4 linked regions of the Homo sapiens genome follow. The protein of the gene in region 2 purifies or fractionates together with the protein of the main gene of each other region. This does not show direct contact. Each region holds a gene or a part of one and is shown on either strand. Other genes may lie near its edges.

The links. Proteins that work in one complex are often made in the same cells at the same time.
Region 1: the proteins of AQP9 (region 2) and RAB6A purify together in Homo sapiens (affinity purification with mass spectrometry; one large-scale study listed by BioGRID and IntAct). This does not show direct contact.
Region 3: the proteins of AQP9 (region 2) and FGFR1 purify together in Homo sapiens (affinity purification with mass spectrometry; one large-scale study listed by BioGRID and IntAct). This does not show direct contact.
Region 4: the proteins of AQP9 (region 2) and APPL1 purify together in Homo sapiens (affinity purification with mass spectrometry; one large-scale study listed by BioGRID and IntAct). This does not show direct contact.

The regions. Positions count from the first base shown.
Region 1 is NC_000011.10:73,678,107-73,681,074, forward strand, and holds part of RAB6A (ras-related protein Rab-6A), read right to left. Parts: intron 1,615-2,968; coding exon 1,548-1,614; intron 1-1,547. UniProt on the Homo sapiens protein: The small GTPases Rab are key regulators of intracellular membrane trafficking, from the formation of transport vesicles to their fusion with membranes.
Region 2 is NC_000015.10:58,172,881-58,176,380, reverse strand, and holds part of AQP9 (aquaporin-9), read right to left. Parts: intron 3,314-3,500; coding exon 3,176-3,313; intron 1,464-3,175; coding exon 1,345-1,463; intron 1-1,344. UniProt on the Homo sapiens protein: Aquaglyceroporins form homotetrameric transmembrane channels, with each monomer independently mediating glycerol and water transport across the plasma membrane along their osmotic gradient.
Region 3 is NC_000008.11:38,427,136-38,430,635, forward strand, and holds part of FGFR1 (fibroblast growth factor receptor 1 isoform 1 precursor), read right to left. Parts: intron 2,814-3,500; coding exon 2,547-2,813; intron 1,301-2,546; coding exon 1,211-1,300; intron 959-1,210; coding exon 786-958; intron 1-785. UniProt on the Homo sapiens protein: Tyrosine-protein kinase that acts as a cell-surface receptor for fibroblast growth factors and plays an essential role in the regulation of embryonic development, cell proliferation, differentiation and migration.
Region 4 is NC_000003.12:57,258,729-57,262,228, forward strand, and holds part of APPL1 (DCC-interacting protein 13-alpha), read left to right. Parts: intron 1-299; coding exon 300-352; intron 353-1,116; coding exon 1,117-1,291; intron 1,292-1,388; coding exon 1,389-1,425; intron 1,426-1,899; coding exon 1,900-2,046; intron 2,047-3,500. UniProt on the Homo sapiens protein: Multifunctional adapter protein that binds to various membrane receptors, nuclear factors and signaling proteins to regulate many processes, such as cell proliferation, immune response, endosomal trafficking and cell metabolism.

The sequences.
Region 1 (2,968 bases), on a different chromosome or scaffold from region 2:
AAGGTGCTCAAATGGAATAAACTTGTTTATATCTACTATATGCAACAAGGGTCAGAATGAGGTACAAGCTCTATTTATGGGTATCTATCCTAAGGAACTTATTCTACAGTGGCAAGAAGTGATATGAAGATGATGTTCCTCATAGAATCATCTATAATATAAATCTGAAAATAGCCTACAAGATAGTTCCAACAGCAGAGGAAACATTTAGTAAATAATGGGACTTCAGGCCGGGTGCCGTGGCTCATGCCTGTAATCCCAACACTTTGGGAGGTTGAGGCAGGCCGAACACCTGAGGTCAGGAGTTCAAGACCAGCCTGGCCAACATGGCGAAACCCCATCTCTACTAAAAATATAAAAATTAGCTGGGCATGGTGGCTCATGCCTGTATTCCCAGCTACTTGGGAGGCTGAGGCAGGAGAATCACTTGAATTCAGGAGGCAGAGGTTGTGGTGAGCTGAGATTGCGCTGCTGCACTCCAGCCTGGGCGACAGAATGAGACTCCATCTCAAAAAAAAACGGCGGTGGGCGCGGGGACATACTTCAACTCAATAGAACATTTTTTGTTGTTGTTGTTGTTTTGTTTTTGAAACATATTATGTTTTATGTTGTTGTTGTGTTTTTTTTTTTGGGGGGGGAATGGAGTTTCGATCCTGTTGCCCAGGCTGGAGTGCAATGGCGTGATCTCGGCTCACTGCAACCTCTGCCTCCTGGGTTCAAGCAATTCTCCTGCCTCAACCTCCTTAGTAGCTGGGATTACAGGCGTGCACTATCACGCCCAGGTAATTTTTTTATTTTTAGTAGAGACAAGGTTTCTCCATGTTGGTCAGGCTGGTCTTGAACTCCCGACCTCAGGTGATCCACCTGCCTTGGCCTCCCAAAGTGCTGGGATTACAGGCATAAGCCACCGCGCCCGGCCTGTTTTATGTTTTTTATGAAAACATATAACATTTACAAGTGGGAAGAGCTGAATACAAAGTGCTACAAACTATATGGCTTAATAAAAATGCCTGCATATGGAAATACACTAGAAGGTGAATATGAAACACTGAAAACATCAAATTAAAAATCCTTAGAATTAACTAATATTAGATGTCCCAATCCTTGGAAATGAACTAATATTATGTCCTGTTTCTGAAAGCAGAGGCTACAATAAAGCTCCACTCTATTTCTTGCCTGTGTCAAGTAGAAAGCTCAAGTGTTAGAAAAAGAAATGAAAATTTGATATTCCATGAGGAAAAAGCCTAGAGTCAATGGGACTCAAAATGAAGAGGCAAGGACACAGGGATTCTAAGAGTTTCCTGCTCATTTAAAAGCAAGCAAACAAACACAAAACCTCTCACTGATTAACAACGAGAAGCAGGCTGCAAAGGGTGCACTTGGATAACCAGACCTCATTTGCTATAGAAAACAAATGAATTTCTATGCCTTTAAGTCATCAGTTCCTGGTTGTAAAAGGCAATGGCACAATATTCTTTAGCCAAGCAAGCAGGGCTCTAAAGACTAGTGTTAATAATGAAAAATTTCCAATGAAATAAAAAGGATACTATCTTCTCTGCTTCTGTCCTGTGTGCTTTCCATTCCCGGCAAAGCTGCTGCTACACGTCGAAAGAGCTGTGGGAAAGAGAGAAAAGTGATAACTGAGAGGGAACATTTAGCAAAGGGTACTGAGGTTTATGATCACTGTACAGTGAGCTGTCTAATGCTGGGCGCAGTGGCTCACACCTGTAATCCCAGCACTTTGGGACCCACCCGAGGTGGGCAGATCACTTGAGGTCAGGAGTTTGAGACCAGCTTGGGCAACATGGTGAAACTCTGTCTCTACAAAAAAAAACACAAAAATTAGCCAGGCGTGGTGGCACACGCCTATAGTCCTAGGTACTGGAGAGGCTGAACCTGGAGGACTGCTTCAGCTCAGGAAGTGGAGGCTGCAGGGAGCTGAGATCACGCCACTGCACTCCAGCCCGGGCAACAGGGCGAGACTCTGTCTTTAAATAAATAAATAAATAAATAATAAAATAAAATGTCTATTCATTCTATAAACGAGTATTATATAAAAAGCAATATACCAAATACAAAGAGGTATAAAGACATGATTCCTGTTTTTTTAACTGGTGGGATAAGACAAAAGTAAACAGCTATGAAATAAGCAGCAAAAATGTCATTTGAATAATAAAGTATTACAGAAACGCAGAAAAAGGACAGATCATTCATTTAACAAAACTGTATAGTAGCATTCCTATCTTTCATATAAAGAGTGAGGTTCAGGGCTGGACGCGGTGGCTCACGCCTGTAATCCCAGCACTTTGGGAGGCCAAGGGGTGTGGATCACGAGGTCAGGAGTTCAAGACCAGCCTGGACATGGTGAAACCCTGTCTCTACAGAAAATACAAAAATGAGCTGGGTGTGGTGGCACATGCCTGTAATCCCAGCTACTTGGGAGACTGAGGCAGGAGAATCACTTGAACCTGGGAGGCGGAGGTTGCAGTGAGCCAAGATCACGCCACTGCATTCCAGCCTGGGCGACACAGCAAGACTTCTTCTTGGCGGGGGTGTGGGGGGGAGAGTTAGGTTCTGAAGTCAGTGTATAATATATTGTGAAACTCAGTCCAGTCAAAATTATCCTTCATCGTTCATTAGAAAAGCACTATGTTAGAGATTAATACACCACCCCTCAAGTCCAACACAGCTGGCTTTTCTTCCATCATTGGAATGAGTGTCAGTGGGAGTGGCTGGCTTGTGTTTGAGGTATGAAGCTATGAAAAGTTATCTTCAACAGGAGAAACGCACTCAAGCCTGGTGAGATGTTTACTTTTGAGAGGCATATGAGAACAGATACTGGAACAACAGTTTATACTTCTTATATTGTCCCAATCTTAGGCATACACCCACTGGGTACAACAGCCAGTGAAACTGCCTGATTATTTCAATTATTTATCTTTTAATTAAGCACACAGTGTAAACCCAT
Region 2 (3,500 bases):
ACGCATGGCTAATTTTTGTATTTTTGGTAGAGGCAGGGTTTTGCCATGTTGCCCAGGCTGGTAGTGAACTCCTGGGCTCAAGTGACCTGTCCACCTTGGCCTCCCAAAATGCAGGGAGTAAGATGTGAACCACCGTGCCCAGCTCTGTCTAATTATATCTTATTTTGCATTGTTTCCTTGTTCAATGCTCTTCAACTAGATTCAAAATTTCTGGGCAGATACTGCTTACAATGCGTTTTTCTCATATTATTCTTTTTATCCTCATAAGTAACTTCATGAAGGCTCATATTATCCCCATTTTACAAGTGAATAACTTGCGACCCAAAAAGTTCAGTACTTTGCTGAAGCCACGCAGGAAGTTGGAGGCAGAACAGCTATTTTAATTCAAGCATTCAGACTCTGCATCTTGGATCTTTACAACTCACATTTACTCGTCAGTCTTTCAAGCTCCAGACAAAGGGCCAAGCACATAGTGAGTTTTTAATGAACACTTGTTGCCTGTTTGATTTATTGATGAAAGTGGAAAGTAAAAAAGCTGAGGACATGAGGGCATAGTTTTTCATCCATACATTGAATGGAGGTGGGCATAGCTGATGAACTGGAAGATCCATTTTATACACATGCCCATTCTGATCTGCTCCACTGTATAAGTCCTGATCATAGAGGAAGAACTTAGAGATACTGAAAAATATAGCCTTCCTTCCACTGCCCTGACCAAGATAACCAGCAGCCTTCTTGGGACACAGTAAGGGAAGAAGAGTCTTTTGAGTTGACAATGTTAGTCCTGCCATAAGCTGACCAAATAGGTGTGCTATTGGTTACACCACAGTATGCTTGGGTGCTAGAAGCTTGTTTAAAGGTCAATAAGCAGAGATACTTCTAGCCACCTTGAGAGTTTAAATAAATAAACCTATGCACATGGTGAGACAGAGAGGATTGATGATCCCCTAGGCTCAACTACCACCCTTCACAGTCTTTGATTTGAAATAGAAATATCTTCTCTTGTGGCCTCCACACTTAGACCACTTGTTCAAAAGAGTCAATAGTGAAGTGAAGTCCATTTGTGTCTACAGGGATTGAAATGTTTAGTCATTCACTCTTTTCTGGATCTCAACTAATGTTAAACAAGTGTACGTATTAAAGAGGAAGGAGAAAACTTTTCTGGTGGTATCAGCTCCTTGTAAAGGTAAAACGATTATCAAGAAAGCTTGGGTTATGCCCAGCAACCTCTGCCTTTGGAAATATAATCTCTCCTTTCTGATTGGTCTCTAATTCTCCAATGCATTCCCCTTATGAGAGCATATCTTTTCACCAAAGTTAAGTCTTTGTTGAATCTACACTTACTTGATCTGCAAATGCGTTCGCCAGAGATAGATACGGAGCTGGGTATGTTGCAAAAATGTGTGCTGTTGCATTTTCTCCCACGATCAGCAGTTTTCCACCAGCAAAGGACATAAGTCCATCTATGAAAGAGAAAGCTCTGGCACATTAGTGTTCCCTGGGAAGAGTTGAAGGAGGCCTGTGCCAAGCCTTGTGCTAAACAACCAGTCACTCAGATTGAGCTTGGCATAGCCATGTCATTTGTCTCTCTCTACTTCCGAGGAATGATAGTTTTAGAGATGCCCAGGTGAATCCCAGGATGGAGGGTCAAAGGAAGAAGGCCTTTGGCCTCTCTGAATGGCCCACTGCAAACTTGGACAAATTATTCTTCGATAGGGTCCTGGGAATGAGTTCTCTTTTGGGGGAATTCTTGGAGTTTTCGAGGTCAACTGTAAGCCAAAGTGGGGCTTGGTCTTGCTCTAGGAATAATTTATAATTCCCAGAGGGCTCTCAGTAACCCCTAATACCACTCCAGAATTTGAGGGTGTTGCAGTATACTGAAGATGCCCTTAGAGCCAGGGGTATTGCAGCCACTGCCACAGCTAGCACTGACCCCAGGCCATTCTTGCCACAGCAGCGGGCTCTGAATTTCCTGTGTGTTCTTGAATTCCATTTTAGCCCTTTTAGACTCTAATTCTCAGAGAGACACTCTATGGGGAAAAGTCCCTTTCCATAACCTATTTCTTTTCCTTTTTTTTTTTCTTTTTTTTCTTCTTTGGAGACAGGGTCTTGCTCTGCTGCCCAGGCTGGAGTGCAATGGCATGATCCTGGCTCACTGCAGCCTTGATCTGGGCTGAAGCAATCCTCTTATCAGCCTCCTGAGTAGCTGGGACTACAGATGTGAGTTACCACACCTGGCTTATTTTTAATTTTTTTTTCTGAAGAGACGAGGTATCCCTATGTTGCCCAGGCTGGTCTTGAACTACTGGGCTCAAACGATCCTCCCACTTATGCCTCCCAAAGTGTTGGGATTACAGGCATGAGCCACCACACACCCAGCCCTCCATGACCCATTTCTATAAGGCCTGGTTCATAAATTCTACTTCCTAAGGTCTTCAGTTTGGGTAAGTCATAATGTATTAAGGCTTACCTTGGGTTAGAAGGAAGGAGCTGCTTTAACAGTTGATTTCATGGGAACACCAAGGTGTTTTAGTTTGAAAGGCCTCGAGAGTCATCTGATTCAATTCCCTCATTTTCCAGAGGAGGAAACTGAGGCTAGTCAGATCAGATGACTTATTTAAGTTGCACAGGTATTTACTGAACAGCTAGAGCTAAAGTCTGGTCTTCTATGACCAATACTGTGTTTTTCCCAAGGACTGTTGCAGAGTGGAAGCCCTGGCTGTTTGATAGAAGGGCAATGAGGCTCCCACCCAGCCCACATCTCTGCTGTGTCTCTTCCTTCAAAGACATCTTCCCAGAGTCCTTCTCTCAATACTTACTGGTCACACCTTTGTCACCAGAAAACACCTCTTTTCCCAGCCAAATCAGAGACAGCAGTGGGGAAGCCACTGGCCTACTGCTTGTTGTATGGATGTGTATGTTGCAGTGCTGGCTTGGCACAAAGACAGGCTTCCTTTAAGTTCTGCTCCCCATTTAAGATATGACCATTTTCATTAACAGGATTCACGAATTTGCTGGAATGGTAATATGGCCTCATTTTCTCAAATTTAGAACTTGCTGTCACTTGTAGAATGCTTCCCGTCCTTGCTTTTTCTCGCCTGTGCCTACCAAGTAATTCTGACTTTCAAATTATGCCCAGCTCTTCCTAACCTTAGGACTCAGGGACTTTACTCACCATAGTAAATGCCAAAGACGGTTGCAGCCCCCACAAAGGCTCCCAAGAACTGGGCTCCCACATAAAATGGCAATTTGAACCATTTCATCCGTCCAAAGAGACACATTGCTAAAGACACAGCTGGGTTGATGTGACCACCTGCAAGGGAAGATTGGAGAAGTGAGAGGGCAGGTTAGGAAGAAGAATATACAGAAAACCATCTAGAGACCTCAGGTGGAATTCAGTCTTCTAGGCAGAGAACTACTGCCTATGAGGAGAAAGAGGGGTGTGTATGCACGTGAAAGAGAGAGTGTGTATCTGAGCAGGGAGAGAAGGAGGAATGATC
Region 3 (3,500 bases), on a different chromosome or scaffold from region 2:
AAGTTAGTAATTTCACTTGTAACAATCTGTCCTAAGGAAGCACGCTTAAAAAAATGCTGACAGAGATTCACTGCAACATTATTTATTATGGTGAAAAACCAGAAAATACCTAATATCACAAAATAGTTCATTAAATTATAGGACTTTTTCTGTTGTTTTTTGGAGACAGAGTCTCACTCTGTCACCCAGGCTAGAGTGAAATGACGTGATCTCAGCTCACTGCAACCTCTGTCTCCTGGGTTCAAGCAATCTCCTGCTTCAGCCTCCCCAGTAGCTGGGATTACAGGAGCCTGCCACCACACATGGCTAATTTTTTGTATTTTTAGTACAGAGGAGGTTTCGCCATGTTGCCCAGGCTGGTCTCGAACTCCTGAGCTCAGGCAATCCGCCCACCTCGGCCTCCCAAAGTGATAGGATTTTAGGCGTGAGCCACCATGCCCAGCCAAATTATGGGATTTTAAAATAATGGAATCTTATACAGTCATGAAAAATTATGTTTCAAATATTCATGCTTGAAATATATCAGGAAAAGACTCATGTTAACAAATGACAAGGCAAGGAAATTACATACATGATGTGATCAACTATGTAAAAACCATATTACAGAAAGAAGACTGAAGAAATGTTTAAACTTTATTTGCATTTTTTTGTATTTAAAAATTTTAATGAATAACCTGTATAGGTGGAAAGTATTACTTAAAAAAATGAAAAGCATGTAATCAGGACTTCCTAACTCGGCCTCCCCTGTTCCCATTACTCTAACTTTCGCATGCACACACACGTACCTTGTAGCCTCCAATTCTGTGGTCAGGTTTGAATTCTTTGCCATTTTTCAACCAGCGCAGTGTGGGGTTTGGGGTCCCACTGGAAGGGCATTTGAACTTCACTGTCTTGGCAGCCGGCACTGCATGCAATTTCTTTTCCATCTTTTCTGGGGATGTCCAATATGGAGCTACGGCTGCCCGGGGAAAGCCAAGAGAGACAGGCAGGGTGGAGAGGAGCAGCTGGTCAGGCTCAGGAGCAGGGCCCAGGCCAGGACCTGGAGGTGTCTTGCCCATCTGCCCAACACCTGTGAGCAGTGCCTGGCACTTAGCAGAACAGGCACCGTGACCCCATGTGCCCTCCTCTTCCTCCCCTTTCAGCCTTCCCCTCCCCTCTTAAACCCAATGCCCAGACCCAAAGGGCAGTAAGATAGGAAACAGTGTCTCACGCATACGGTTTGGTTTGGTGTTATCTGTTTCTTTCTCCTCTGAAGAGGAGTCATCATCATCATCATCATCCTCCGAGGAGGGGAGAGCATCTATGGGAAGAAGAAGGGGCACTGAGGTTCCTCCTAGGGACCCCTAGATTTCACCAAGGCTAGTGCAGTTCCAGATGAACACGGACACCCTCCCCATGGGGATCCCAGTCCCACTGCTCCCTTAGTGATGATCTCTTGGTGGGATGGAAACTGTTTAAGAACAGTTCCTGTGCGTGTTTGCTTCCTTCCCCGAAGCACTGCCCCCACTGCCTGGAAGCCTTCACACTGGGTGGTTCCATCAGGGTCAGCTGTTCCTATTTAACTTAATTCCGTCCTACATTCAAAGGCGCTTTCTCAACTTGTGGTGCCACCTGGGTGTGCTGGAGCCAGGCAACCTGTATTCTTCTTTGGACGGCTGACTATAGGGAAACCCAGGCAGGTCTAGACACACTGTGGCTAGATGCTATTTCCAAAGGATGGGCTAAACACCCCACAGTCAGAATTTTTCTAGCATGTGTCTACTAAGGTTTGGGGGCTGCCCTCCTTAATCAGAGCAGATAGGGCACCCACCACCCCAGCAGCTGCCAACACCTCTCCCCAATAAGTATTTATTTCTTGTAAGAACACGCTTGATACACATGTGGTCACCCATCAGGGTTCATGCCAGATCTTTCTCCAGTCCTTCCTATCACCTTTGGGGATCTGCTGCCAAGTCCACACCCTGAGGTGCATAAATGGCATAAAGAAAATTTCAGCTCCACTTCCTCAACTCCTAGTTTTGTGAAAGTCACATTCTAAGAGTGGCAAGTTCCCAAGTTCACAGAGCTCCAGGGCTCCCTGGCTGCCCTCGCACAGCTCCCTTGCGGTGCACCTGGGTTCCTCTCCAGCAGAGCAGGGATACCACCACCTGTTCAGGGCCTCTAATCACTAAGCCGAGTACCAAGTCCAAATGGCAAGGGAGTGATGGAGTGGAAGCTGGCCGAGCACCACTTAGCCTCCTGGAGATCTGGGCAAGCTGTGGTGGAAAAAAATCACAGGGTCTTAACATCCCAAGAGCCCTGGCAATCACCTCCGAGGTGTGTCCTGGAAGCCCCAGATCTCCGGCCCTGGGGCCCACCCCACCTAGTCACCTCTCTGAGAGCCAAGCCACGCGGCAGGCAGGGAGCAATGTTAGTGGGCAGCAGTTTCTGAAGCAGAGTGGGGGCAGATCACGGAGGGGGAGGAGGTTCACCTTCCTCTGAAACTGGCAGAGAGGGCTGGAGGGGGTGGGTCTAGGGAGGGGCAAGGGCAGGGCTTGGCTACCAACCTGAAACATTGACGGAGAAGTAGGTGGTGTCACTGCCCGAGGGGCTGCTGGTTACGCAAGCATAGAGGCCGGAGTCTGCGGGCACGGAGTCCTGCACCTCCACCTCCTCCCCTGTGATGCGGGTGCGGTTGCTTTCCGCCAGCTGCACCCCGTCCCGCAGCCAGTTGATGCTCTGCACATCGTCCCGCAGCCGACAGCGAAGCTGCAGCAGGTCACCGGGGTGGACCAGGAAGGACTCCACTTCCACAGGGGCTCCCCAGGGCTGGGCTGCAGCCACCACGGGGCCGGGAAGGGAAGCCAAGGGGCGAGAGAGGAAGACAGGGAGAGGGGAGGAGGGGAGAGACAAAGGGAATTACGCTGGCCACACGGAGCCGCACCATCCTGGGCATCACTTACTGGAGGCTACTGAGCCAGGGCAGTGGGAATTGGAGCATGGGTCAGTGGGGAAAACAGCTGGCTGCCTGGGAACCCCCATCTCTTTTCCACCCCACTCCTCCAAAAGTCAAAGGAAGAAAGAGGCAAAGTTAGGAAGCAGCTGTAGCAGCATTAAGCGCATTTCATTTCCCCCATCCTAAGGGGAAAGGTCGGCCCTCCCCAGGACTTCTTTGTGTCCGGAGTTGCCCCCTCCCCAGATGCTCAGTTCTTTGCCAAGATTGCCACTTGCCAGAGGAACACCCCATTTCCTTTGGGATAGCTCAGCCTCACCCTTCCCTAGCAACAGCTGAACAAACCCCGCCCCTCAAAACCCCAGCAGCCCCTGCCCAAGTCGAGAGAAGGCAATTTGTCAACTGGGGGCTGACCAGGATGCGTGTGATTCGGAGAGGGTGGGGGTCTGGCCCTCGACGCGTCAGATGCACATGCTGGGGGGGCAGCCCAAGGAGAGGTCAGCTCAGGGAACCTCTCGCTAACAGGTGTCAGGGCAGGGGATTTGGAGCTGTTGACTATATTAGGACG
Region 4 (3,500 bases), on a different chromosome or scaffold from region 2:
GCTAGCTTATTTAAATTCAAGAACTTTTGCAACATGGTTTATTATGTTGATTTTTTGTTGTGTATGTCTAAACTTCCAATTCATCTGTGTCTTCTAAAGTGCACCAACATTGATCAGTTAGTGTGTGAGGGCAGAGGCCTTCATCATAGTAATTTAGTGATCAATAGTGTTTCTTAATAGGATGGGGCATTTTAGAGCTTTTTTTTTTTAAATGTTAACTGTGGTTTTAATAATTAGATTTCTTCTATGTGGCTCATGGTAACTGACCATGTGTTCATATTTTCTTCTAAACTTTTTAGGCGTACAAATCCATTTGGAGAATCTGGAGGAAGTACAAAATCTGAAACTGAAGGTAAGACAGATGTGCAGCATTCATATATTTTAGAACTGCTTCTCAGCAAACTGTGAATAATTTATTGTTTATATTTGCTCTGCTACTAAGCTCAGTTTTAATGCTATCTTTACTTCAGAATTTCCTCTACTTACTTATAGTACACTTGAAGCAACAGAACTTAATCTGACTTAAGATGTTGTGATTCATACAAAACGATAGACTCTCATACTTTTGACTTTATAGTCAAATTCAGTGCCTAAGATACCTTTCAAGCTTTTCCTAACAGCTGATGTTTCTCTTCTGGTACTGGAGCATAAATTTTGTTTTTCCGCCACTAACTATTTATTTGAATTCTAAACTTACAGAAATGCTGTAAGAACCACCAGTTGTTGTGTGTTTGTGTGTGTGTGTGTGTGTTGAGACAGGGCTCCCTATGTTGCCTAGGCTGGTCTCGAACTCCTGGGCTCAAGGGATCCTCCTGCCTTAGCCTCCCAAAGTGCTAGGATTACAGGTGTGAACCACCACGCCTGGCCTCAGAACTGCCAGTTGTTGAAGCATTACTTTTAGCTATTTGAATTTGAAACCCTAATTTTCCTATAACTTGGAATACTGTAGTTAGGAGTTATTTTGAAATGTCTCCCTTAGGCTGTTGAATTTTTCACTAGAAAACCTAAAAGGAGGCAGTGTATTTTATTCTTTTGGAAAAGAAATATGGCGAAAAAAATAAAATGTAAATTTATACAGTAAAAAAAAAATATGTAATACACCTTGTTCTATTATAGATTCTATTCTTCATCAGTTATTTATTGTCCGATTCCTTGGTTCAATGGAGGTGAAATCAGATGACCATCCAGATGTTGTTTATGAAACTATGCGCCAAATCTTAGCTGCCCGGGCCATCCATAACATCTTTCGTATGACAGAATCGCATTTATTAGTCACTTGTGACTGTTTAAAGTAAGTAAAACCCTCCCTTAAAAAACTGTAGAAAAAACATTTACATGATTTCAGCCTAATTAAAATTTGTTTTCCAATTTTTAAATTATTATTTTAGGTTAATTGATCCACAGACACAAGTTACAAGGCTCACGGTGAGTTCCACATGATTTAAGCTTTGTTTTAGGTCCCTTTGTATATATACACATCTTACAACTTGATAATAATCCTGATCCTGTATATTCAAGTGTGATAGTATCAGCTATGATTGGTCTTTGGCTGTTGTAGTTAAGTCTATGGCCATCTCCAAAAAGTTGTCATTGAACATTTTATGTAACTTAAAAGAATTAACACAATTCTTTTTGTAATTTTTTTAACACAGTTCTTTTTGACTTTGTAAAATGTGTTAATGACTAATAAAACAAATGTAATATTCAACAACCTTTTTCTGCTTGTTAATTCAAACCAAATATGACATTACTTGTTTCTGCATTACAAGTCTGTTAAAATAATTGGCTTTAATATATTAAAATATTTATATTTTTAGAACTTAGCATATGAGTTTGTCACAAGTGCTGCTGTAATGACTTGTAAGATCTCATGTTTGCTTCTGATGTTTTCTGTGGCAGTTTCCATTACCTTGTGTAGTTTTGTATGCTACACACCAGGAAAATAAGCGCCTTTTTGGATTTGTTCTTCGGACATCAAGCGGGAGAAGTGAAAGTAATCTGTCATCAGTCTGCTATATATTTGAGTCAAACAATGAGGGGGAAAAGGTACATGGCTTTTCAGAATATCTCTGTCATAACCACTTACTAATTGATTCTTACTAAGATTTAATAATAATTAAATTCTTACAAATTAAATTAGTTAGTAATTACTGATTGAATTCTTTACAATTTATACAAATTTATGAGGCACATGTGAATTTTGTTACATGTATAGAATGTACAGTAAGCAAGTCAGGGTATTTAGGGTGTCCATCATCCAAGTACAATACATTTTTGTGAAGTATAGTCACCCTACTCTGCTGTCAGATATTAAATATATTCTTTCTATCGTAATTTATGGTTGTACCCTTTAATCAGCTTTTCTTCATCCTCCCCCTTTCCTCATCACTCAGCCTTCCCAGTCTCTGTTGTCTGTCATTCCACACTCTGCCTCCACGTGATCAATTTTTTGGCTCCCACATACAAGTGAGAACATGTGATATTTGTCTTTTTGTGCCTGGCTTATTTCACGTAAGATAATGACTTCTAGTTCCATCCACGTTGTTGTGAATGACATGATTTCATTCTTTTTATGGCTGAATAGTACTCCATTGTGTATATGTACCACATTTTCTTTATTCATTTATCTGTTAATGAACATTTAGATTGACTTAATATCTTTGCTATTGTGAATAGTACTACAGTAAACATGTGAGTGCAGGTATCCTTTTGATACAGATTTCTTTAATTTTGGGTAGATACCCAGTAGTGGGATTGTTGGATCGAATGGTAGTTCTATTTTTAGTTTTTGTTGTTGTTGTTGTTTTTGAGACGGAGTTTCACTCTGTCGCCCAGGCTGGAATGCAGTGGTGCGATCTTGGCTCACTGCAACCTCTGCCTCCTGGGTTCACGCCATTCTCCTGCCTCAGCCTCCCGAGTAGCTGGGATTACAGGTGCCTGCCACCATGCCCGGCTAATTTTTTGTATTTTTAGTAGAGACGGGGTTTCACCGTGTTAGCCAGGATAGTCTTGATCTCCTGACCTCGTGATCTGCCTGCCTCAGCCTCCCAAAGTGCTGGGATTACAGGCGTGAGCCACCATACCCGGTCTATTTTTAGTTTTTTGAGAGATCTCCATACTGTTTTCCATAGTGGTTGTACTAGTTTATGTTCCCACCAACAGTGTATGAGTTCCCCTTTTTTCTGCATTTCACCAACATCTGCTATTTTTTGTCTTTTTAGTGATAGCCATTCTGACTAGGGTAAGAATGGCTCATTGTCATTTTGATTTGCATTTCTCTAATGATTAGTAATGTCGAGCATCTTTTCATATACCTGTTGGCTGTTTTTGTGTCCTTTAAGAAATGCATATTCATATCCTCTGCATACTTTTAAGTGGGATTATTTGATTTTTTCCCTGTTGAGTTCGTTGTATATTCTGGATATTAGTCCCCAGTTGGATGAACAGTTTGCAAATAATTTCTCCCATTCAACAGGTTGTCTGTTTACTCTGTTATTTCT